Homo sapiens: one gene and its partners. The protein of the gene in region 1 interacts with the protein of each later gene in a pairwise test. Each region holds a gene or a part of one and is shown in the gene's direction. Other genes may lie near its edges.

Evidence for each region.
Region 2: the proteins of ABI2 (region 1) and CEP44 interact in binary tests that used the Homo sapiens proteins (3 or more experiments, as listed by UniProt).
Region 3: the proteins of ABI2 (region 1) and ZMYND12 interact in binary tests that used the Homo sapiens proteins (3 or more experiments, as listed by UniProt).
Region 4: the proteins of ABI2 (region 1) and EGR4 interact in binary tests that used the Homo sapiens proteins (3 or more experiments, as listed by UniProt).
Region 5: the proteins of ABI2 (region 1) and CUEDC1 interact in binary tests that used the Homo sapiens proteins (3 or more experiments, as listed by UniProt).
Region 6: the proteins of ABI2 (region 1) and STX19 interact in binary tests that used the Homo sapiens proteins (3 or more experiments, as listed by UniProt).
Region 7: the proteins of ABI2 (region 1) and EFS interact in binary tests that used the Homo sapiens proteins (3 or more experiments, as listed by UniProt).

Annotation. Positions count from the first base shown.
Region 1 is NC_000002.12:203,394,394-203,397,893, forward strand, and holds part of ABI2 (abl interactor 2), read left to right. Parts: intron 1-306; coding exon 307-453; intron 454-1,262; coding exon 1,263-1,387; intron 1,388-2,391; coding exon 2,392-2,574; intron 2,575-3,500. UniProt on the Homo sapiens protein: Regulator of actin cytoskeleton dynamics underlying cell motility and adhesion. Functions as a component of the WAVE complex, which activates actin nucleating machinery Arp2/3 to drive lamellipodia formation.
Region 2 is NC_000004.12:174,290,411-174,293,910, forward strand, and holds part of CEP44 (centrosomal protein of 44 kDa), read left to right. Parts: intron 1-3,500. UniProt on the Homo sapiens protein: Centriole-enriched microtubule-binding protein involved in centriole biogenesis. In collaboration with CEP295 and POC1B, is required for the centriole-to-centrosome conversion by ensuring the formation of bona fide centriole wall.
Region 3 is NC_000001.11:42,446,023-42,449,522, reverse strand, and holds part of ZMYND12 (zinc finger MYND domain-containing protein 12), read left to right. Parts: intron 1-884; coding exon 885-1,056; intron 1,057-3,500. UniProt on the Homo sapiens protein: Required for sperm flagellum function and male fertility.
Region 4 is NC_000002.12:73,290,749-73,294,701, reverse strand, and holds EGR4 (early growth response protein 4), read left to right. Parts: upstream 1-1,153; 5' UTR 1,154-1,384; coding exon 1,385-1,520; intron 1,521-1,920; coding exon 1,921-3,245; 3' UTR 3,246-3,773; downstream 3,774-3,953. UniProt on the Homo sapiens protein: Transcriptional regulator. Recognizes and binds to the DNA sequence 5'-GCGGGGGCG-3' (GSG). Activates the transcription of target genes whose products are required for mitogenesis and differentiation.
Region 5 is NC_000017.11:57,885,913-57,889,412, reverse strand, and holds part of CUEDC1 (CUE domain-containing protein 1), read left to right. Parts: intron 1-3,500.
Region 6 is NC_000003.12:94,022,098-94,025,597, reverse strand, and holds part of STX19 (syntaxin-19), read left to right. Parts: intron 1-3,500. UniProt on the Homo sapiens protein: Plays a role in endosomal trafficking of the epidermal growth factor receptor (EGFR).
Region 7 is NC_000014.9:23,362,373-23,366,668, reverse strand, and holds the start of EFS (embryonal Fyn-associated substrate), read left to right. Parts: upstream 1-1,496; 5' UTR 1,497-1,643; coding exon 1,644-1,661; intron 1,662-4,296. UniProt on the Homo sapiens protein: Docking protein which plays a central coordinating role for tyrosine-kinase-based signaling related to cell adhesion. May serve as an activator of SRC and a downstream effector. Interacts with the SH3 domain of FYN and with CRK, SRC, and YES.

The DNA of each region.
Region 1 (3,500 bases):
AGAAGAGGTAGGGTCTGGGAAACATTGGCTTAAATGGTAGAGAACCTTTGTGCTCTTTGAGAATAAATGAACAAAATTGCATTAGCACAGGGAAATGAGGTTGGAGACTGAAAAATAACAATATTCACCAAAACCCTAATGGTGGAGAAGTGATACATTAGTAAAGACTGAAATTGGTAGCTGGGTTATGTTAAAACACATTTCCTATCTCTGATTACAAATTGTATCTCAACTGCTGGCAACTCTTTGAATTTATTGTGCCGAAACTTGCTTAATCATACAATACATACGCTCTTCTTTTTGTAGGCGGCACTCCCCCTATCGCACACTGGAGCCAGTGCGTCCTCCAGTGGTACCAAATGATTACGTACCTAGCCCAACCCGTAATATGGCTCCCTCGCAGCAGAGCCCTGTGAGGACAGCTTCTGTGAATCAAAGAAATCGAACTTACAGGTATTTTCTCTACCTCAGTGCAAAATGTGATGGTCATAGTACCATAATCTGTTCAGATTACTTCAGGTAAATCTCTCATTTTCCAAGCACTAAGTTCTTTTCCTCACTCTATTCTCCCAAACCTCATCTGATTTCACCTCTCTCTCCTCATGTTCTGATTCAACTTTGAGCAGTCAGGAAGTTGATAAAGAACAGACATCTCAAAGTGCAGACTTCTCTCCAAGTTTTAAGAGTTCAGTTGATCTGGAAAAAAAATTATGGACCAAATGTGGGAAATGTCAGGTTGTTTTTTGGTGGAACTTTACAGATGAAAAACTATACATAATAAAACATTAATATGGGATAGTACATCAGAGTATGATTATTAATTAAAATTACTCAAATCTGTTTAGGAAAATGTTTTTGTTTTATTATAAAAGAAGTTTCTTCAGATAGGCATTAAACTGGAATATAAAAAGGCAATATTTATTGTTTTAATGTGTTAAACCTCAACATTTATCACTTGTATTTATGGATAATTTTTTCAAAATGTGGTCAAAACAAGCTTATTGAACTCAGTTTTCCCCTCAACTTTATTAATAAGTAAATATATATATATATATACACACACACACACACACACACACACACACACACACATTTTTTTTTAACCTGTCACTGACTTGGAGCTCAAGGAAATTTTATTTTGAAGTGGTACGCTTTTGAATTACCTTTATTGTAGCTACATTCATCTCAGAAAATGTCGGGAAGTGCTGATGATCTCTTACTGTTTATAAATACTCATGTTTTGGTGGCTCTTATTTCTTTAGCAGCAGTGGGAGTAGTGGAGGGAGCCACCCAAGTAGTCGGAGCAGCAGTCGAGAGAACAGTGGAAGTGGTAGTGTGGGGGTTCCTATTGCTGTTCCTACTCCATCTCCTCCCAGTGTCTTTCCAGGTAAAACATTCATGGTGCCTCGTCTTCACTTTTCCTTTCTGAATTTGATTCAATTTGTGATTTAATTATGGTGGGCTTTCTTCGTAATCAGGATTTTTTTTCTTTAGGAATCATAAATATTGGGAAGTCTATATATTTGTTATTTGTAAGCAAGTGATTTGTAAGTGTTTGCTCACTTTGCACTTCTCTTTATGCCTTTGGTGATGTGGCTCAGTTGCTGCTTTGAGGTTTCAGATCACACTTTGTTATGAGTACAAGTTTAATTCCAGCTAGTGTTATGACAGTGCAGTCTTTGGACACAGTGGGAACTCAGTGTGAGAACCATATTAGTAACAAAGGATTGGGCAGATATAAAAAGTAGTTTTGACAGTTAAATTTAGTGGCTGTATTGGAATTTAGTAGTCTCTGAAAATACTACCCTCTTTTCTCTGAAACAGAAAAATCTGCTTATTTGATTCGAGGAGATACACACTTAAAACTTAGTTTTGAAAACGTGACACAAAATACATTAATAGAATGTTACATACTTAATTTACTTATAGTAACAAGTAGATAATGCCTTTTAAAAATCATAAAGATTTGTGTTTTAAAAAAAATTTTTAATCTGATAATATGGAATATGTCTATTTTCTGATTTGTGTAATTCAAAATGGAAAACTGTTGTTTTTTAGTGTATTATGTTAGTTTTGTATACTATATACAGAATGTTATGCTAAAAATAACAATACGAAGGGAACACTTTTCTTCTGGAGTAGTGCTTTCAATTGAAAAGGAATGTTTGTTTTTAATGAATTGAAAAAATCTGCACATTACCCTGAGCATCTTGAATTATTTGCTGCTTATATAGTAATCCTTTAGCATAAGTTTTATTCTTTTTTTCAACTCTGTTCTTTTGGTTAGTGTTAAGCACTGAATATCTAACATTAAATACTCTAATACCTTTTCTAATCCTGCCTCATGTGATTGCCTCATTAATGCTGCCTCTTACTCCTCTTTCCCCTCAGCCCCTGCTGGCTCTGCTGGCACTCCTCCCCTTCCTGCTACTTCTGCATCTGCCCCTGCTCCTCTTGTTCCTGCTACTGTCCCTTCCTCCACTGCCCCAGACGCTGCTGCTGGGGGTGCCCAGACCCTTGCTGATGGCTTCACTTCTCCAACTCCCCCTGTTGTTTCTTCCACTCCCCCTACAGGTAAGTATTTGCTTATTCATTGGCAGGCAGATGCAGTCATCTGGCTATTCTCTTACTTGCACCTCTGATTTTTGTTTGTTTTTGGTTTTGTTGTACTTCGTATTAAAAAAAAATAAGAATAATGTACTAACCAGAAAGTATGTGACCAAAGATTAGCATTTCCTGAGAAAATTGAGGTAAAGTTTCTCATACATTTTTCCAATAGGGTAGCATAAATTTGTGTTTTTTTATTGCTTGAATTTCATTTATTAGAGATTTTTAAGTTTAATATGGAGCTACCTTCTATACAGTTTTTGGAAATTATCATTAGAAATATTTTCATTATAGGTTAAGTGATTAACAAAAGTCTATTACAATAATTCTAAGGTATATTTTATAGGAAATATTTGATACAACAAATGGAAAGCCTCTGTAAGTCTATTTTTAACAGAATCTGTTGCTTATTATAGCAGCATTGGAAACTCATAGACAATGGACTTTTAAAGAATTTCAGGTTTATTTAAGTTGGCTGGTGTTTTAAAATTGCAATCTAAAATCTGTTTTGATTGGGGAGGAGATAGACTCAATTGCTACGAAATATATTTGTAGAGTTAATGATGCTGGCTAGTAACAGGTTCTTGTCTGCTATAAAATGTATGTGTTTGGACATATATCACTGTATTAGTCTGTTCTCACATTGCTATAAATACCTGAGACTGGGTAATTTATGCAGAAAAGAGGTTTAATTGGCTAACGGTTCTTCAGGCTGTACAGGAAGCATGATAGTGGCATCTGCTTGGCTTCTGGGGAGGCCTCAGGAAACTTACACTCATGGCCTAAGGCAGAGGGGAAGCACACTGGTCACGTGGCCAGAGTAGGAGCAAGAGGACAAGGCGGGAGGTGCTACACACTTTTAAACAACCAGATCTCATTATTGCAAGAACAGC
Region 2 (3,500 bases), on another chromosome or scaffold:
AATGTTTTTAGTCTTCTTAAATTTGTTAAGACTTGTTTTGTGACCTAGGCTGTGATCAGTTATAGAGAATGTTTCATGTCCTTTTGAGAAGAATGATTATTTTGCTATGGTTGGGTCTCATGTTCTGTATATGCATGTTAGGTCTTTGGTCTATAGTGTTGTATAGTTTGCAATTTACTTGTTGGTATTCTGTCCGGATGACCAGTACATTATAGACAGTGACGTATCAAAGTCTCCTTCTGTATTGTATTGATATCTATTTCTTCCTCCAATTCTATCAATATTTGCTGTTGGCATTCTGTCTGGATGACCTGTACATTATAGAGAGTGATGTATCAAAGTCTCCTTCTATATTGTATCGATATCTATTTCTTCCTTCAAATCTGTCAATGTTCACTGTATATTTTAAGGTGCTTTGATGTTGGGTGCATATGTATTTTTAGTTGTTGTATCTTTCTATTGAATTGACCCTTTTACTATTATATAATGCCTTCTTTGTCTCTTTTGACAGTTGTCGACTTAAAGTCTATTTTGTCTGATATAGATAGCCACCCTGCTCTCTTTTGGTTATAGTTTGCATGGAATATCTTTCTCAATCCCTTCACTTTTAGCCTACGTGTGTCCTTAAATGTTAGAGTCTCTTGTAGATAGCGTATAGTTGAGTGTTGTTTTTATTATCCATTTCAGCCATTCCATGTCTACTGAGAGCCCTTAATTATTAAAAATTTAAAGTAATAATTTTTAATAATTAAGTACTTAATTGTTTCCATTTTATTCATTGTTTTCTATTTGCTTTCTGTTTCTCCTGTTTTTCTCTTGTTTGTTGTCTTTGTGATTTGATGATTGTAGTAGAATGCTTTGATTTTTTTCTTTTTTTTGTTTATTTACTATACTTTTTATTTTGGTTACTATGGGGTTTGCATCAAATATTATGTAGTCATAGCAGGCTTTTTAAAGCTAGTAACAACTTCATTCATATTCAGAATCTCTACACTTCTCCCCCCTCTTCCTCACCAATGTATGTAATTGATTTCAGATTTTACTTCTTTCTATATTGTTTCTATTAACAAATTTCTGTGGTTGTTGTAGTTACTCATACTATTTTTGTCTTTTAATTTATATACTAGTGTTCAATGAGATTTACGTGCCACAGATTTCAGTATTGCAATATTCCATGTTTGTTTTCATGTTTGCTTTTAGCAGTGAGATGTATACTTTCATATGCTTTCATACTGTTGGTTTAGTATCTTTTCAGTTAACTTGAAGATCTCCTGTTAGCATTTCTTGTTAGGGCATGTCTAAAAGTGACAAACTCCCTGAGTTTTTTAATCTGAGGAAGTTTTCATGTTTTCTTTATTCTTTTATCTTTTTCTTTTCTTTTTTTTTTTTTTTTTTTTTTTTTCCAGGTCTGGCTCTGTTGCCCAGGCTGGAGTGCAGTGACATGATCTCAGCTCATTGCAACCTCAACCTCCTGGGCTCAAGTCAGCCTCCCACCACAGCCTCCCAGGTAGCTGGGACTAGAGGCATGCACCACCATGACTGGCTAATTTTTGTATTTTTTGTAGAGACAAGATTTCACCATGTTTGCCAGGGTGGTCTTGAACTCCTGAGCTCAAGCAATCTGCCTGCCCTCAGCCTCCTCAAGTGCTGGGATTACAGGTGTGAGCCACCATGCCTGGCTATTTCCTTCATTCCTGAAGACAGTTTTTTCAGGTAATTATTTTCAGTTGGCAGGTTTCTTTTTTTACTTTCAGTATGTTGAATATGTCATTCCCTCTCTCCTGGCCTGCAAGTGTTCTGCTGAGAAATTCACCAATACCTTTATGGAGGCTCTGTTATATGAAATAAGTTACTTTTCTGTCACTGCTGTCAAAATTTTTTCTCTGTCTTTGAATTTTGACAAATTCATTATAGTGTCTATTGGTACAGACCTCTTTGGCTTCAACCTATTTGGGAACTTTTGGGCTTCGTGAGTCTGGATGTCCATTTTCCTCCCTAGATTTGGTAAGTTTTCAGCCATAATCTAAATGTGCTTTCTGCCCCCTTTCTCTCTGTCTTTTTGCCTTCTGGAACTTTTATAATGTGTTTATTAAGTTACTTAGTGGTGTACCATAAGTCCCGTAGTATTACTTCATTTCACTTTTTATTCTTTTTAATATTTCTTCCTCTAATTGTATAATTTCATATGACCGGTGTTCAGGTTTGCTGATTCTTTCTTTTGGTTGATTGAGTCTGTTGTTGAAGCCTTCTATTGAATTTTTTAGTTCAGTCATTGTATCCTTCAGCTCTAGGATTTCTGTTTGGTTCTTTTTTATGCTTCTCCTTTATTGAACTTTTTGTTCATGTATTGTTTTCCTGATTTTTATTTCATTTTCTATCTGGGTTTGTTTATTTGTTTGTTTGTTTTTGTAGCTCATTGAGCTTAAGATGATTATTTTGAATTCTTTGTCAAGCAGATCATGGATCTTCATCTTGTTATAGTCAGTTTCTGTAACCTTATTGGTTTCCTTTGGCATGTTGTATTTACTAATAATCCCTTGAGTCTTTCATTGGTGTCTGTACATTTGAAGGAGCAGTTCCCACTTCTGTACTAAACAGAGTGATTTCAGTAGATGAAGATCTTCTCTTGCTGGGTCCCTTGGTGAGACTGACTTCCAAACCACAGTCACTTAGGTGGAGCCAGGTTGTGGGTCTGCTTACATGTTCAAAATCAGGTCTGCGGTTGTGGGCCTGTTACTGGGGCTTGGGTGGGTGTGGTTCCTTCTGGGTTCCCAGACAAACAAGTCTTCCTGTGAGACCTTGGACAGGTGAGTTGAAGCCCACATGCTGATGAGGCTGCTGCTGGGTCTGGAGCCAGTTCTGTAGTCACATGCCTGCTACTGGGGCATGATTCTGCCTTCTCAAAATGGCTTCTATCAGTCTTGGACTCCAGAAGGATGTCACAGCCTTCTACTTGGACCCATCAGGGCACTTTTATACATAGATGGTTGCTAAATTGGTGTTTCTGTGAAGGACAAGGGCTGGGGAGGTCCTGTTCCACTATCCTTTTCTAGCTAAAACCTTCTTTGATTTCTTTCATAGTTTTGTAATTTGTCACATACAGATCATTTACATATTTTGTTAGACTTATAAGTGTTTTTTGTGCTATGATAATGGTGTTTTTAGTTTTATATTTCATTCTAATCATTTATTGCCAGTATATAGGAAAACATTTGACTTTTGTATATTAACCTTATATACTGTGACTTTGCTATACTCACTTTTTACTTTTAGGGGGTTTTTTTTGTTAATTCTTTAGCATTTCCTAAATAAACAATCATGTCTTTTGCAAATGAAGACCACTTTATTCCTTTCTTCCTAAGGTATTTTATTTCCTTTGCTTGCTTCATTTCACTAGCTAGGACTTCTGGAACACTGTTGAATAGGAGTGGTGAGATAGGACATCCTCGTGTTATTCCCAGTCTTTGGGGGAAGTATACAGTTTCTCAGCCTTAAGTGTG
Region 3 (3,500 bases), on another chromosome or scaffold:
TCTCTTTGTGTGTCCAATTTCCTCTTTTTATAAAGACACAAGTCAGATTAGGTTAGGGCCCACCCTAATGGCCTCATTCTAACTTAATCACCACTCTACAGGCCCTAGCTCCAATTATAGTCATGTGACAGACTGCAGGATAGGGCTTCAACACATGAATTTTGGCAGGGGACACAGTTCAGCCCATAACATCCACAGATGCCAAGAGTCTGGCCACATAATAGGAGGGTTAAGAATGATGTATGGATATACTACTGAATAAATAAAGGAGGTTACCAAAACCTGCCACTATTATTATGTATAGTGTTGAGTATTATTGAGTATTGAGCATCTCAATCACTCTAAAAAATTAGCCCCTTATTATAAGCCATAAATCTCTAAACATAAGATCCATCCATTTTAGTGTTATGACACTTTGATAGTGGCCTTAGAACAATGCAGAGTTAAAGTTTTTTGTGATATTAGCTAAACAGGATAATTCTGGAAGGGAAAATGAGATGTTTCTCTCAAAATTAACTCAACTAGGAAGGCAGAAAGTTTCAGATTGTCCTGAGACATGCTAGCTTTGCTAAAGTAAAGTTTTATTAGAACTGTAAAAACAATACTCATTTATTCATCTGATAACTCTATATTGAGCATTCATCTATGCCAAGCGCTGAACTAAGATGAAAATACACATGTTCCTGGGCCTTAAGGAACTCATAGTCCAGAGTTTGCTTTCTTATATCACTTATGTGGGGCTTCACGTCCACTCTAATACAGGCAGGCTCACTATGTGCCTTTAACTGGGTCATTAGGTGTTGGCCTTATCCCCAGGGCCATCTACATCCACCTTTGCCTTTAACTTTAGACTGTCTCAGATAGTCTGTTTCTCTCTTCCACAGAAGTATTTGATTGAATTCTGCTACACCATAGCCCAGAAATACCTCTTTGAAGGGAAACACGAAGATGCTGTACCAGCAGCTTTGCAGTCCCTTCGCTTCCGTGTGAAGCTGTATGGCCTGAGCTCCGTAGAGCTTGTGCCTGCTTACCTGCTGTTGGCCGAGGCCAGCCTTGGTGAGTGAAACCGACTTGAGATCCTTGGATCCCTTAAGTGGTGTTATGTTTGGGTCACACCAATGATCAAAGAGTCACCCTTGACAGTGGCACCAAGAGACCTATTGTAGAAGGAGCAGGGTTGCTGTAAAGTTTAGCACAAGGTAGGGAAGGAGATGTCACAGACTTTTGTCTACAACTGGCAGAAATCCACTCAAGCTGGCCTGCACAAAAAGGAGGAACTTTGTGCGGGTGCTGTAGTATCCTACAGGAGCTGAGGCTTCATGAGGGACTAGAATTGGAGTGCCTTTCGTTCTCTCTTGGGCCTTGTCTCCTGTATCTACTTCTCTCTGGGTATCTATCTGCTTTGCTATTTTCCCTCTCTGCAGACCAGATTTGTCTACCCTATGCTCACTGTAGAAGACAGCTACCCCAAAATGTCAGATGGAGTTTTTCAGTTTACGTGTTTTCTAGGTTTGAAGTAGGCAGTAGAAACTAATTAGCTTCTGATTTCCAAATACAAATTCGTAGAAGACAGAATTTTGTTGACATGGCTTGAGTGTGGAATCCACCTTTATTCCCTGGGATCAGAGCCACATAGTTCAGAAATACAGGAACCCACCCCTATAGATGGGAGAGGCAATTCTGAGAGTATAGAGCAGACTTAGCAGATACCCTACATGGTGGCCACCATTTAAAAAAATGCTTCATATGTTTTAATAGCCACCATTAAAAAAATACTTTTTTAAAAGTAAAACTTTTTTAAAAGTAAAACTGTTAAAATTAAGTACAATATAAAGAACTTTTATCCCCTGAGTTCTCTGAGAGTAAGTTGTTCACCTGATTCCCTATCCTTAGAATACTTCAGTGTCCCCTTAGTAAATGAGATATATTGTATTGTGGTTATGAAGGAGAATGTCTTTGTGGGAACCACACAAGGGGACCCTGTCATCTAAGAAGACCCCATTCAAGTTTCTCGAATTTTCCCAATAACATCTTTATAGCAAAAGGATACAGTTCAGGGTCACACTTTTCATTTTGTTGCCATGTGTTGGCAACAAAACTCTGGAATAGTTTCTCAACCTTTTCTTGACTTTTATGATCTTGACACTTTTACAGGTTACAGGCCAATTGTATAAAACATTTCTCAATTTGAGTTTGTCTGATATTTCCTAATGATGGGACTCACGTTATGGATTTTTGGCAAAAACAGTACAGAGGTGATGCTGTGTTCTCATCCCATCCTATAAACTGGCATGTTTTCATTTTTTTCATTACTGATGATGTTCATTTTAATTACTTTATTAGGATGGCGTCTGCCAGTCTTCCTCCCTGTAATGTTACTCTTTCACCCTTCTGTAATTAATAACTTTAATTTTCATTTCATGGATACGTCCTTTGAAACTATATAAATATCCCATTCCTCATCGAATTTTCAATGTATTCATTTAGTTATTTGTATCAGTATTTTATCTTTATTCAATGGGCTTAAATCCATTACTATCGTTAATTTGATCCTCAAACTGTCCCTGATTTGACCAGTGACAAACCCCACTCAAGCTGGCTTCTGCATCTCCCAGATACAACCCCATTTGTTCTTTGCTCACTTGACTGCTTTCTGGAACATACCTCTAAAGAGCCCTGATCTCTTTCAGTGGAAAGTGAAAATCAGAAGCCAAAAGCTGTGCACTAGATGTACTCATGCTTTTGGGGTATTACTGCTCCCAGGCCTTCTCAGTGGAGTTAGGGAGTAAGTGTAAATATAATAATGGGTGTACGTATACACACATTACATCTGTATTTATTTCTATATCTATATATCTTTTTTTTTTTTTTGAGACCGAGTCTCACTCTGTCACCCAGGCTAGAGTGCAGTGGCGCAATCTGAGCTCACTGCAGCCTCCACCTCCCTGGTTCAAGCAATTCTCCTGCCTCAGCCTCCCGAGTAGCTGGGACAACAGGTGTGTGCCACCACGCCTGGCTCATTTTTGTATTTGTAGTAGAGACGGGGTTTCACCATGTTTGTGATCTTGAACTCCTGTCCTCAAGTGATCCACCTGCTTCAGCTTCCCAAAGTGCTGGGATTACAGGTATGAGCCACCGTGTCTGGCCTGTATCTATATATCTACATCAATATCTCTATGACCACTAGTCTATACTGTTTGATCCAGATCTAATACAGCACCATAGGGTTCAATCTGATTTACTTCCATTCCTTAATTGCAACTCCCTTTGCTGACAGCTTTCACTTTCATTGGTTTATTTACATATTAATGAGTTCCCCTGTATGAATCAATCCCCGCTCTCTAACTCCGTCCTTTCCACCTTATAGATACCTCTTCCCGCTCCATGGGCCCTGACTCCCCATTCCAGGCTGCCTCTGCTGCATGGATCCCTCCTCACTTGTGTGGGTTCCAACTCCCCATAACAGGCTGTTTGCCTGCAGGAATGCCCTGCTCACCCTG
Region 4 (3,953 bases), about 130 Mb from region 1:
AGAAGCATCTCATACCCTGTGGGTGAGGGAGGAGTGAGCAGGAATTGGCCCTACTTTTCTGGAAGACAATTTGCCAGTTGTCTATCAAAATTTTACATATACTTTGGCACACAATTACACTCGTTGGAATTTATCTCACAGACACATTCACATTTATATAGTCAAGGATGTTGACTCCAACAACATTGGTATAAGTAAAAAGTTGGAAACTGCCTACATGCTCATGGATAGGGGACAAATCGACTAACTCAAGGTCCTCCCTTACAATGGAGTACTATACAGCCTTGAAAAAGAATGACAAGATCTTTATGTCAGGACATGGCACAATCTCTAAGTTATTTCAAGTGAAAAAATAATAATAATAATAATATTGCAGAACAATGTGTATGGTTGGATATACATAAAATTCTTCTGAAAGAATACCCAAGAAACTTAAATGTGGCTACCTCAGGAGCTAGGAATGAAGGTAGGTGGAGAGGAGGGACTTTTACTTTTCAATTTAGAATATACCCTGTTGTGCTAGTTGACTTTCCTCCTACTGTTAACAAGTATTACAGTCCTTTTTAATTTAAATTATTTTTCCTAGCACAAATTTAAAAAAAAAAAACTTAAAATGGAAAAACACACAGGCGTGAGCAAAAGAAATGAATGGCAATAATCTCTGTGGTTTACTGAGTGCGCCTGGACATTTATGTGCTCTCAGTTTCTCTCCACAGGAAATGCACAGGTGAGAAACTGACGTTAAGGGGGACTGAGTGTCAAGCTAGTTAGTGGCAGAGGGCAGATTCAAACCCAACACGGTCCTCCCCTGCTGCCCCTCGGCCTCTGCCTCCAGGTGGGAAGCGCATCTACCGGACGGTCGGCCCGGTGAGGCGCAGCGCCCCAGACTGGCGCATCCGCGGCCCCAGCGCTCCACGCCTGGGGAGCGCGCGCGCACGCAGCGGCGCGAGCCTGGCGGCGGCGGCGACAACAACAACGTCACAGCTCGAGCTTTCCTTTTCGGGAGTCCCCGGCACACATCCTGTGTCCATGTTTGGGCATTTACGTCACGGCGGCAGGGCCGGGGCCTCCCAAAATGGCAGTGGCCCGGGGAGTCGGAAGCCCGGAGCCAGCGCCGCCGCAGCTATATAAGTGGGGGGGCTGTGGGCTGGGGGAGCCCGGCAGCGCTTTGGAGAGGCGAGGAGCCGCCGCCCGAGGCCGGTGCGGGCGAGCGAGGGCGCCGCGGCTCCCCGACTCCTTTCCCAGAGGTGAGTGCCCGAAGCCAGGAGCCCGGGCGCCTAGGTCTGTGCGCTGCGGGGAACCCCTACCGCCAGCCTCCCCGCCACCCGCGCGCCCCCAAGCCCAGCGGGCGAGGCCCCGGGCGCCCCACAGCCGGCGCCGCGCCATGCTCCACCTTAGCGAGTTTTCCGAACCCGACGCGCTCCTCGTCAAGTCCACTGAAGGCTGTTGCGCCGAACCCAGCGCTGAATTGCCCCGGCTGCCTGCCAGGGACGCTCCCGCGGCCACCGGCTACCCTGGAGGTAAGGAGGGCGAGCAGGGGTGCTCAGACGACGACGGCGCAGCGCGGGGGCGCACCATACCTGAGAACCAGGAGGGACTGGGACATTGGAGCTATGAGAATAGGGGCGATGGGAAGCTTAGGAGTCCTGGGGTGCGCACCCCCATTCCCACCCACACTGGGCCGCCAGCGCCTCCGCAGGAACCTGTGCGGTTATCGGAGCGCCCTTTTGCCTGTGCACGTGTGTTTTGCGTGTGCATGTTTCTATGTGCTCCTTGGGACGTATGCGGGCCCCTGCTGAATCAGAATGTGCAAAAGGCACTTTGTGTATATCCGTGGGCACCAAGAGTTTTGTAGGTAGGGGCTGTGGACTCAGGTGCACCCTTTGATGTGCCCAGAGCTGATTCCTGCTCCCTCCTCAGCAGGCGACTTCTTGAGCTGGGCTTTGAACAGCTGCGGCGCAAGTGGGGACTTAGCCGACTCCTGCTTCCTGGAGGGGCCTGCGCCCACACCCCCTCCCGGCCTCAGCTACAGCGGTAGCTTCTTCATTCAGGCAGTGCCCGAACACCCGCACGACCCGGAGGCACTCTTCAACCTCATGTCGGGCATCTTAGGCCTGGCACCCTTCCCCGGTCCAGAGGCAGCAGCGTCCAGATCCCCGCTGGATGCCCCTTTTCCTGCGGGGTCCGATGCCTTGCTGCCGGGTCCGCCGGACCTTTACTCCCCGGATCTGGGCGCTGCCCCTTTCCCAGAGGCGTTCTGGGAGGCCTCGCCTTGCGCGGGTGCCCCCTCGCAGTGCCTGTATGAGCCTCAGCTCTCCCCGCCCGACGTCAAGCCCGGCCTCCGGGCGCCTCCCGCCTCGCCAGCGCTGGACGCTGTCTCTGCCTTCAAGGGTCCCTACGCGCCCTGGGAGCTGCTTTCTGTGGGGGCCCCAGGGAACTGTGGGTCACAGGGAGACTACCAGGCCGCCCCGGAGGCTCGTTTTCCCGTAATAGGGACCAAGATTGAGGACTTGCTGTCCATCAGCTGCCCTGCGGAACTGCCGGCCGTCCCAGCCAACAGACTCTATCCCAGCGGGGCCTATGACGCTTTCCCGCTGGCCCCGGGTGACTTAGGGGAGGGGGCTGAGGGCCTCCCTGGGCTCCTGACCCCTCCTAGTGGGGAGGGAGGGAGTAGCGGCGACGGCGGAGAGTTTCTGGCCAGTACGCAGCCTCAGCTTTCCCCGCTGGGCCTTCGCAGCGCCGCCGCGGCGGACTTCCCTAAACCTCTGGTGGCGGACATCCCTGGAAGCAGTGGCGTGGCTGCACCACCCGTGCCGCCGCCGCCGCCCACCCCTTTCCCCCAGGCCAAGGCGCGACGCAAGGGGCGCCGCGGCGGCAAATGCAGCACGCGCTGCTTCTGCCCGCGGCCGCACGCCAAGGCCTTCGCTTGCCCGGTGGAGAGTTGTGTGCGGAGCTTTGCGCGCTCCGACGAGCTCAATCGCCACCTGCGCATCCACACGGGCCACAAACCCTTCCAGTGCCGCATCTGCCTCCGCAACTTCAGCCGCAGCGACCACCTCACCACGCACGTGCGCACCCACACCGGCGAGAAGCCTTTTGCTTGCGACGTGTGCGGCCGCCGCTTCGCGCGCAGCGATGAGAAGAAACGGCACAGCAAGGTGCACCTCAAGCAGAAGGCGCGCGCCGAGGAGCGGCTCAAGGGCCTCGGCTTTTACTCGCTGGGCCTCTCCTTCGCTTCTCTCTGAGCAAGAGATGGGTTTATGGGTTGGGGCGCCGCCGTTCGGCGCGCACGAGTTCCGGGCCGTTCCCCTCCCCGCTCTTCTTCCAACTCCTCCTCGCACGCCCGAGGGCCGGCCTCCGGTCCCGCTTCCAGTTTCCTTGAAGCGCCCGCCGCACACGCCCTATTCAGCACCAGCTCCGCGGACAGTTCCCGCGGTCCAGGCGCTGTCACCCTTGTCAGCCGCGCTTTGGGGGAAGTCTTCTGAGACCACCCAGTGAATAGGCACTACCCTGGGATTCAAGACAGTCTTTTGTAACTGGCACACGCCCCACGCCTTCCTCTATAACCCCCAGAGACAGGCTGGGGCAGCGCCAAGGCGGTCTCGCGCGGGACTTTGTACAGCAGTGTCTTATCCAGCAGCCATTGGATGTAACGTTTTGCTTTGGGTTTTTTTTCCTTTTGTTGTTGTTAATTTTTGTAAAGCAGACGCTACTCTCAAGCAGTTGACAAAACTGTTTATTTTTGCAATTAAAATTATTGTGCTAAAAGCTTACTGAATCTGCCATGTAAGCTCCTGACCCTTCCCCTTAGCTTCTCCCCCAGGACCATATGTGCCAGAAGATAAAGGAGATCCCCACGCTCATGGGATACAGACCCTGAACATATTACACACCCACTGTCAGGCACACCTGCCAGGAACTGCGGCACAGAGTAGGCATTCAGTAAATGTGTG
Region 5 (3,500 bases), on another chromosome or scaffold:
GGCCATGAGGATCAATATTTCCTTACAGAGGGCTGAAAGAATTCCAGGGATTGACATCCAGGTGCTGGGGAAGACCCCCCTAGAATCTCCCTACCCCATCCCCCCTGTGAGGGCAGCTTGGCCAATTTACCCACTGCTCCTGGCTCTTTACCAGCCTCCTGGGGCAATGATAACTCAAATGCAGCATAGCCACGTTCTAGGCAGTGTGCTGAGGATTATCTTATTTCATTCCCATTGAAACCCCCTAAGGGATACATCCAGATGAGGGCTTAGGGCCACGGAGAGGATGGGAGACTTGTCTGAGGTCCCACAGCTGGGGAGTGCGGAGGCCTTGTCTGAACTGGTGCGTGTTCCCTATAAGTGGCAAGAGTGCAAGGCTTCTGGAGCTTCTCAACACTCAGAGAGGCCCAGAACCCGAGGGAGCTGTCCAGAGGGCTGCTAATGGGGAAAATGTCGGTCTTGCCATCTTCTTTCTTCCTCCCCTGGGGGTGGCCCAGGTCATCTTTCTCCGAGGGATTGCCTTTGGCAGAGTGAGACCTGGGTCCCTCCATCTCTGTTAGTAAATTACTGGAGGGGCAGAGAGATGATGGCTTTACTCCAGAAGGCCTTAACACAAGTCACTGACCCCTGTGTGTGATGACACTAGGACAGCAGACAGTAGCCCAAGGCATCAGCTTCTGGGGCCTCCTGGCCCTGAGGTCTGTGTTAGAGGCTTGAGGGCAGGTCCCCAGAGCCCAGGACAAAGGCAGCTGTCAGGGTGGAGCCCAGGCGAAGCTGCATACTCTTCTGATGTGTGTGGGTTCGTGGAGATGTGGGTGTAGGGGTGTTGGGGTGTCTAAAGCCGGCTATGGGAAGCCATGTCATACTTGGCTACCTTCCTATGTTCCTTCTCACAGCAAAACTCTTGGACTGATCATTTGAAGTCACCCCTCTGTGTCTTCTTGTGAAATGGCTTGGGCGTCTCTGGGCTCTGACTTGCTCATCTGGGAAGAGATGGGGTAGAGGGAGTTGGATTATAAATCATGCTTCACTCAGTCAACAGAATGCTACTCAGGCACTAAAAATGATGGCGTAGCCCTACGTATTCTGACATGGGAAGATGGCCACAATATCTTATTATGTGGAAAAAACTAGTTGCATAGGATTTATGGTTTGATTACATTTTAGTAAAATAAATTCATTTATGGTGGTATATGCAAAGAAAAAATAATGCCGGGCGCAGTGGCTCACGCCTGTAATCCCAGCACTTTGGGAGGCTGAGGCAGGTGGATCACTTGAGGCCAGGAGGTTGAGACCAGCCTGGCCAACATGGTAAAACCCCATTTCCATTAAAAATACAAAAATTAGCACCAAGCGTGGTGGCACGTGCCTGTAGTCCCAGCTACTCAGGAGGCTGAGATGGGAGACTTGCTTGAACCTGGAAGGTGGAGGTTGCGGTGAGCCAAGATCACGCCACTGCACTCCGGCCTGGGCTACAGCCAGACTCTGTCTCAAAAAAAAAAAAAAAAAAAAAAGAGAAAAAGAAAAAGAAAAGAAAAAATCGAGATGTAGACACACTAAAGTGTGAACAGATTTTCTCAGGGGTTGATGTACTCACAAAAACATCTTGGCCAAGCATTGAAGCTCATGCCTGTAATCCCAGCACTTTGGGAGACCAAGGTGGGCAGATCACCTGACGTCAGGAGTTTGAGAACAGCCTGACCAACATGGCAAAACCCCATCTGTATTAAAAATACAAAAAAAAAAAAAAAAAAAAAGCCAGGCGTGGTGGCGTGTACCTGTAGTCCCAGCTACTCGAGAGGCTGAGGCAGGAGAACTGCTTGAACCTGGGAGGCAGAGGTTGCAGTGAACCAAGATCACAGCACTGTACTCCAGCCTGGGCGACAAAGTGAGACCGAAAAAAAAAAAAAAATTTCTGTATCAGCTGTTAAGATTGTGACTCCAAGTCCTAGAAAAGTGAAAACAAGTTTGCACCTGTTTCATCAAACTCAAGGATATTATTTGATGGAATTGTCCCTTAAAATAAAGCTGCCACTGTCAGAAGTTGGTGTTTAGGCGCATTCCATTCCCAGTGGTCTGTGCTAACAGAAATGCAACCTTGGCAGTGATTTACATGCCTGGGTTTGAGTGGGCCGGGTGGTTTTCTGTGGCAGATTAAGGTCCCTCATTGTGCTTGATTTTCAGTTCCACCTATACATGTTGTCAGGACACTGTGCTGACCCTGGGGGCTGAGGGACACACATTGGCTGGGGCAGGAGAACTGGGCTTGGTGGGGATAAGAACAGAATTTATGGCCGGGCACGGTGGCTCACGCCTGTAATCCCAGCACTTTGGGAGGCCGAGGCGGGCAGATCACGAGGTCAGGAGATCGAGACCATCCTGGCTAACATGGTGAAACCCTGTCTCTACTAAAAATACAAAAAAAAATTAGCCGGGTGTGGTGGCGGGCGCCTGTAGTCCCAGCTACTCGGGAGGCTGAGGCAGGAGAATGGTGTGAACCCGGGAAGCGGAGTTTGCAGTGAACCGAGATCGTGCCGCTGCACTCCAGCCTGGGTGACAGAGCGAGACTCCGTCTCAAAAAAAAAAAAAAAAAAACAACCAGAATTTATGATGTATATGGTTTCTCAAGACAACTTTGAGAAAAAACTTCTAGAATTTTTAAAAATATGTAAGGACACTGAGTGTTCCATAAGAACAAACGTGTCTGTGATATAAATAAAACATGTCGGCCTGACATTGGGGTAAGGAAAATGAACTCCAGGGGTTGACAATGGCCTTGCATCTCTCTTTTGGGCTGGTGCTTCTCAGGGGAATGGACTGAGTTTTAGGGCCTGACATGAGTTTTCCAAGAGTGGGAACTGGGCCTCCCCTATTAGCCCGAGGCTCTGCAAGGATGAAACCCTGTTTCCTCTCTCAGGCTGGAAGCTCCCGGTGACACTGGAGGGTCCCGCTTCTCATCACTGCTGTCCCCGGGGTTCGATGGAGCTCTGCACAAGATTCCTGCCCTGGTGGTGGGACCACGATGTTGGGGCAGTGATGTGGGAAGATGAGAACAGGGACTAGAGATCAGAGAGGCAGGACATCTTTAAAGAGCCCCTCCTGCCTCACTCAGGTCTTCAGGGGTCTTTGGCAGTATGTGTAATGGTAGAGACCAGTGACTTGAGGGCCATATGTCCCAGATTCAAATCCTGGCTCCTCCACTAACTCAGCGTCTATACCTCACTTTTCCCATCTGCAACATGGGCATACTAGCACATACCTTACAGTATTGTCATGAGTTGGCCCACATAGAGCACTTAGGATGGCACCTGGGTCGGAGGAATCCCTTGCTAACTGGTGGCTGTCCTGTGCTAGTAAAGAACTGTGGGGATTTCATTACTGAAGCCGGGGAGAAAGCATGAGGAAGAAGCAAGCCTCCCTTGCCCGTGGTAGGGGTCGCGGTTCCCTGCCCTCATTTCTTAGTAGCCCTTGGCCGCCACCCTGAGCTCATGTTTTGTTAG
Region 6 (3,500 bases), on another chromosome or scaffold:
GGCTACTGACGAATTTCACTAAATACACTTGCCCACATTTAACAGAGTGGTCACCAGTCCGTGGCCACAGCAAACATAGGAATTTACTCCTAAGAAACTAGAAATAACCTAATAATGTAAAGGATCTTTCACATAAATATTCTCTAAATGTTCAAAAGAAATACAGGCATAGGATCCATAAACCAAGACAAACACAGTATAACCTTTATAGCTCACTTTAAACATCGTTTACATAATACGCATTGCCATGATGTATAACACTGAAAGGAAACCTGATTCTATTTCCATGTTTTGCCTTTAATATCAATAATGTATACAGATATTAAAAAAAGGATATTTTGTTTTTTGCTTGTAAATTCATTAAGATTAATAAAAAGGACATATTAATATATTTTAAAGGGCTCCTTAAAGTACCTTTTATTCAAATATAAAAGTGTGGTGCATGTTCAGGGAATGATATTACATGGATAAAAATCCAGGAAAAAAACAACCTTTATAGAGGTCAGACTCAAATATCCTGCTTTCCAAAATCAGTGGCAGTAAAATGCACCTTCTCAAAGGCACTTCACAGGAAAATTCACCTTCCCAGAGGCCTGTGTACACTGTGCTCCAATAGCAATTTGAAATAGTCTATTTCTTAAAAATTTTTAAACTATGATGCTTTAGAAAAAGGCTTTTGATTACTTTATTTCTAATTTTTTTAAAAAAGAGGCTGGGTGCACTAGCTCATGCCTATAATCCCAGCACTTTGGGAGGCGGAGGTGGGAAGATTGCTTGAGCCCAGGAGTTAGAGATCAGCCTGAGCAACACAGCAAGACCTCATCTTTACAAAAAATTTTAAAAAATCAGCCAAGCACAGTGGCATGCAACTGTAGTCCCAGCTACTCGGGAGGCTGAGGGAGAAGGATCACTTGAGCCTGGGAGGTAGAGGCTGCAGTGAGCCGCAATTGAGCCACTATACTCTAGCCTGGGTGATAGAGTGAGATCCTATCTCAAAAATAAAACAAAACAACACGCCCAAAAAAGGACAAAGATCTTTCCAGTCATAAAAACATTAGAGGGAGTTGTTTCAGGATTTGTTCCAAACCATGCAACCAAAGAGAAAGTTCAAGATGTTGTAGTTCTTGAGGAATGTGAAAATTAAAGATTGTTAAAAGCTACTGAACCATTGTATAAATATAGGACTTAATTTTTATGGATAGAAAATCAAAATCTGTTTTGTTTGATGCCACTTTCTCTTTCTCTCGCCTCTGAGCTTCTAACATTGTTACTCTTTCTTTTTCCCTATATTTACACGGGTGCAACCCAGTTTAAAAAATAATAATGTGGCAACTAGCACTTCAGCTATATATGCTGTATTTTTAAGAATTCATAGTCAAGGTGGAAGGATCCCTTGAGGCTAGGAGTTCAAGACCAGCCTGGACAAAAGAGCGAGATCCTTTCTCTATTAATTGATTAATTAATTAATTTTTAAAAAACAATTCATAGTGACAAGCTAGTACAAGAGAAGGAAACAGAAATTTGGTTAGATGACTATGAGTTGAAGCAGAAGAAAATATAAGAATATCAATCTCCATATAGTACCAAATATAAAATGCAATATTTCTTAGACTTTCTGTAAACATCAGTCTGTGAGATCCAAATTATTTTTCTTCTTTTATAGTGTAAAGTGATCAATTTGGTCTGATTATATTAAAGATCCTAATAAAGCTTCAAACAACAACATTATTTTAGATCCTATATGCTATATTATCTCCTGCTAAATTTTTTCTTTTAAATAGATATAGTATGTATATTAGTAACATAATACAGTATTTGATATAGATAAACATTATTTGTGTATATTTCACTAGGATAACCAATTTCTACTCAATAGACAATAGGGGAAAAAGAACAGATTTGCAATCAAGTAGATATGTCTAAACGTAGGATCTGCCACCTTTTAGTTGTGTGGCCTTAGGCAAGTCACTTTAAAATTCCCCTTATTTGGACGTTGCTTTTCTTGGACTGGACTGTTTCTTTAATTTTCTTAATGTCTGAAAGGCCATGAAAATAATACAAAGAAAATGGAGAAAATAAAGTTCTTAAAGAAATTATTTAAAAAAAAAGCAAGACCGTAAATACATGAGTTTCTAGGTTGAAAAGACCAACTATATGTTTACCAAATAAATGCATCAAGACCTACCCCAGATCACATTGTTGTGAAATTTCAGAACACCAGGAATATGAAAAAAAGGTCAAGAATTTCATGAAAGGAAATATAAAAACAGATCTACAAAATATCAGAAAACACAGGGCAGAATATTCAGAGGTAACAAAACTAGAAGATGTAGTAACAAAACTTTCAAAATTTTGAGGGAATATAATTTCCAACTGAAACTTATATCCACAGAAAATATAGTATTCAAGTATAGGACAGAATAAAAATATTTTCAGTAATGAAAATTATCATTGCATTTATGTTTTGAAAAGGAGCTATGGTACACTCCCAAATCAAGGAGATAAACCAAGAAAGGTGAGGAATTGGAAATCAAAAATAGAGAATATAAAAGAGGAAGAAAATTCTAACACAATCAGGTTACATTAGAGTTTCCAGGAAAGGAGCCTCAAAAGATGAATAAAATGAAATAAAAATATATATATTCTATATTTAAATATGTCAAGAGGATATGTTCAATTCACTTCAGTTTTAGAATGAATTAGTGATGTATGTACAAAATTAAGCAGGTGAAAAACTTTGGTAATTAATATTTTCTTAAAATTAAATGTTATATGTTTCTTGATCTATGTGGTAGTTACATGGATGTATTTACTTTGTGAAAAATCACCATAATATACATTTATGTTCTGGGGGACTTTCTGTATATATAAATATGTCAATAAGAAGTTTTCTTAAATATATTCATTTTCTATCTCTATCCATTGAAAAAACTTAGAAATAATTTAAAAAATTATTTGAGAAAGGAAATACAGCTACAGTACCTTAGGTGACTCACATATAAATAATATTTGGGTAGTCACAATAATGTAAACACAAAATATTGATTAACCAAAATTTGTGATATAACTGTATTAAAAGGGGGAAGGTGAGGGAAGAATGGGGGTGTGAGAGAAGATTAAATCCACATCTTCCATAGAAGAAATTCAATAAAATAACTAAAACCAAAAAAGCAGCCGGGTGCGGTGGCTCACACCTGTAATCCCAGCACTTTGGGAGGCTGAGGCGGGTGGATCACTTGAGGTTAGGAGTTCAAGACCAGCCTGGCCAACATGGTAAAACCCCATCTCTATTAAAAATACAAAAATTAGCTGTGCGTGGTGGCAGGCGCCTGTAATTCCAGCTACTCAGGAGGCTGAGGCAAGGAGAAATCACTTGAACCAGGGAGGAGGAGGTTGCAGTGAACTGAGATCACACCATTGCACTCCAGCCTGGGTGACAACAGCGAAACTCTGTCTCAAAAAAAATAAAATAAAATAAAACTGAAGAAGCAAAAATACCT
Region 7 (4,296 bases), on another chromosome or scaffold:
GCTGGGCGGAAGGCGCGCGCTCCCTCCCATGGGAAAGACAGATGTGGGGCTAATGAAAGGGAGGCCGAGAGGCGCGGGGACGGCCGGGGAGACGGGGGCGTGGCGGGGAGAGGAAAGCTCCCGGAGAAAGCCGATCGGACCACCGCAAGCGAGGCATGCAGCGGAGTCCGGAGGAGGAAGGCGCCGGGGACTGGGGCAGGGCCAGGGCGGGACGGGGGTGGGGGGTGTGGGGGGTACCACAGGCAGTTGGACCCGAGGGTCCTGAGCTGAAACTCAACACCCGCCTTTGGAAGGATCGTCCCTCTTTCTCCTCCGCCCCTTCCCTTCCCCTCCCCTTTCCCCTCCCTCCTTTCTCTTAATCCCCAGGACGGAGCCCTGCGCGGGAGAGGAGAGGGCCTGAGGGGAGGAGAAAGGAACAGCACTGAGAGGGGCCAGGAGCCCAGGAAGGGGAGGGAAGGGCAGCCGCGGGCCAGGGGTGAGCCTGCGGGCCACGCGCGACCCCCGGAGCCTTCGCAGCCCTCTCAGTGTCCCCACTCCCAGCCCAGGCGAGTCCACAGGACCCGGGCCCCTGCTCCTCCCTCGCCTTCTCTTTGCTCCTTCTTTTGCTTTGTGGCCTTTCTTTCCCTTCCCAGAGACACCTGGGAGCTGCCCCCAAGCTTTGGGGCGCCCCGCGGGGCCCTGCCAAGGGTGCGTGTGAGAGAGGGCGGCGGAGCCGGCGCCGGGTGCCAGGGGCCGAGGGTGGGAGCGGGAGCTCGTGGCCCTGCGCCCTGGAGCCGAGGACTGGAAGGGGGCTGGGCCCCTCCGCCGCCTGGGCGCAGGCCGCGCGTCGGGAAGGCAGTCCCGCCTGTTCCAGGGGTGCCTGCGTGCTGGTTGCTGCTGCCCGGGGCGAGGCGCCGTAGCGGCGACCTCAGACCCCCGGGCGCGCTGAGTGAGTGCGCGCGTGAAAACCGCCGCACCGCCGGGGGTGCGAGTGTCTGGGCCGAAGCGGCCACTCCAGCGACCCAGCCCCACGGCCACGCTCTCGGGGGCCTTTGGCTCCAGGCAACTTGGGGCAAGCGTCTCAGTTCTCGCTCTCCCTTCCTCCCAGCGGGGTCGCCGCAGACCCCAGCCCTGGGAGCACCGCTCTGCAGCGCGGCCGGCGGGTGGAGACGGTTGGCCCCTAAACTCGCTCGTCCAGCCCAACCGCCCCGGCGGCTTCTCCCAGCCCTCGAGGCTCTCCTGAGCGGCCTGGAGAGGCGTCGAGCGCAGCCCAGCGCCCGCCTGCTCACCCGCCCCGGCCCGGGAAGGGAATTTTCGGATCCTGCGAGCCCGGGGCGCCCCCGCGGCCTAGGGCGGGCAGCTCCCGGGGCCTGGCCGAGCCGGTGGCGCCCGGGAGGCCGCGGGGACAGCACGCAGCGCGCGCCCTTGGATGCCGTCCCGCAGCGACGCCCCGGCCCGCCCCGCTCCTCCTCCTGCCTGGCTAGCCTGCCTCTCATTTGGGAAGTTTTGTGGGTTTTCTTTCTCCTCCTCCAACCTTGGCGGAGGCCACGACTCAGGCGCCACAGCTGGGGGCTAGAGGCCGCGGACCATGGTGCGGGGCAGCCACCGCTGAAGTCAGCAAAACCGAGCCTGGCCTGAGGCAGGCTGCGCGGGAGGCCAAAGCCATGGCCATTGCCACGTCGGTGAGTCCACCAGGGAGTGGAGGCTGCCGGGGAGAGACCTCCACGGCCTGCCCTGCGCTCCTGTCACTTTATTTCTGCCCTCTCTTTGTCTCTCTCCTTGGTCCCTTTCTTCTCCAGGAGGCTGTGTCCCCCTCCTCTCACTTTTGTTTCCCTTCTCCCTCTCACTCCTCATCCCCTGCTCCTCCTGGCTCCGGGCTCGCCCCTCTTCCCCGCCCCCTCCCCATTCTCCTTTTTCTTCCTAGAGGCTGCGCCTGAATGGAGGGGAAGGGGCAAGCGTAGCCCGAGTCCTATCTGCTCCTTTTGGGCGGGAACAGATGGCCACTGGTGGTTGGCAGAGGCTTGTGGTTGGGAGGCAAGTAAAAGGTTTGGAGGGGGCTGAAAGGACCTAGTGGCTCACGGAAAACGGAAAACGAGAGGCTGAACGACCCCAGGAGGCCCATCTCGAGACGAGGGATAAGGAAAAAAGGGAGATAGAGCAAAGGAGGGAGATCAAGAAAGAGAAGACAGAGGGAGGAGGGGAGGTGATGTCAGCCAGAGCCTCAGGCCACTTTCCAGGGATCGGGACAAAGGGAGGAGACAGCTGGCATGATGGGACAGTGGGAGGAGGCCTCCCAGAGAGCACAGAGGCTCTCTGCCACCTACATTAGGCTGGCCATTCCCTCACCAGTCAGCTGGGCTGCTGGGGGATAGAGCAGGAGTGGTCACACCCATCATCAATCAGTCCATCAACAACTCTGTCCTGCAATGGCAGGGCCCAGAGGCTTGGCTCCATTGGACAGAACTCAGTCCTAACACCGGGAGGAGCGCTCTACAGCCCCACCTCTGCTTTCTGTTCTACAGTCTATGCAGTCTGAATCCAGGCAGCTTTGTTCCCTTTCCACCCTCTTCTAGGTCCTGCCTAAGATTCCCAGGGAAGCGAGGCCGTCACCTGCTTTCTGTTCCCTTCTCAGTGGGGACTCTCGGAGAGAGACTGGAAAGAGAAGCACAGAGCCACCCAATGTCCTCCCATACCCTTTGAGGACAGGTTCAAGTTTGGTTCTTTCTCAGACCAAACTCCATTTTTTTTTTTTTTTTGAGACAAGGTCTCACCCTGTCACCCAGGCTGGAGTGCAGTGGCACAATCACGGCTCAATGCAGCCTCGACCTCCTGGGCTCAGGTGATCCACCTACCTCAGCCTCTTGAGTAGCTGGGACTACAAGCACGCACCACCACATCAGCTTTTTGTATTTTTTGTAGAGGCAGGGTTTCGCCATGTTGCCCAGGCTGGTCTCAAACTCCTGGGCTCAAACAATCCATCCGCCTCAGCCTCCCAAAGTGCTGAGATTACAGGCATGAGCCACCGCACCTGGCCCCAAATTCCTTTTAGTTCCTCAATCTGTAACGATGGCCAGGAAACCCTAGCTCAGAGTGGGGAAGGAGGCCCTCTGGAGATAGAGTACCTCTGGGAGTACTCTGGCATAGAGATACTGGTTCAGAAGCCAGCTGGTCAGCTTTGTAGTCCCAAGAATGTAGATTTTTCTTTTTGGGGTCAGGGGCATTTATGCTAATCAAACTCACAGGATTCTAATAACAGCTATTATTTATTGAGCATTTACTGCACCTGGCCCTGTGCTGCGCTTTGTCATAGTTTCTTTATGCGTTATCTCATGCAACTCTCACAACTACCCTGTGAAGGTAGTATTGTTATTATCTGAAAATGGATATGCGCATATGGAATTCTACAGAGAAGGAAATTGAGACTCAGAAAGGTTAAACAATCTGCCCAAAGGAACCTGGCTAGAAAGGGACAGACCTGGCTGGGCGCAGTGGCTCACACCTGTAATCCCAGCACTTTGGGAGGCAGAGGCGGGCGGATCATGAGGTCAGGAGATCAAAACCATCCTGGCTAACACAGTGAAACCCCGCCTCTACTAAAAATACAAAAAATTAGCCGGGCGTGGTGGTGGGCGCCTGTAGTCCCAGCTACTCGGGAGGCTGAGGCAGGAGAATGGCGTGAACCCGGGAGGCGGAGCTTGCAGTGAGCCGAGATCGCACCACTGCACTCCAGCCTGGGCGACAGAGCAAAACTCCGTCTCAAAAAAAAAAAAAAGAAAGAAAGAAAAAGAAAGGGACAGACCTCCAAGCAGTGGGTCGCAACGGTAATCCCAGGTATTTAGGAGGCTGAACCCAGGCATTCGAGGTTACAGTGAGTTATGATTGTGCCACTGCACTCCAGTCTGGACCACAGATCAAGAGCTGATCTCTAAAGAAATATTTTAAATAAAATTTTAAAAGAAAGAGACACAGCCAAGACTCAAGCCCAGGTCTGCCTCTAGAACTGTGCTTTTAATCCCCTGGCTAGATCCAAAAGACTGATTTATAATTTACAACTAAAAAGAAAAGTGCAGCACTAACCGGGAATTTGTGTCATCTGGTTAGCACGTTTCTTTGTGTGGGACAATATCCTTTAGAAACCAAAATATAATCAGAAAATGGTTTGATGAGTTGGGAATCAGGCAAGAAGAGGGGTCAATTTGTTGTTAAAATCACCCAGCCATGAGAGGCCGGATAACCTCACCACCAGAGGGAAACATCAGCTAAGAGGAATATGCACTCCTGCTGACTCTAGCAGGGCATCCTTCTCCCCAGGGTCTG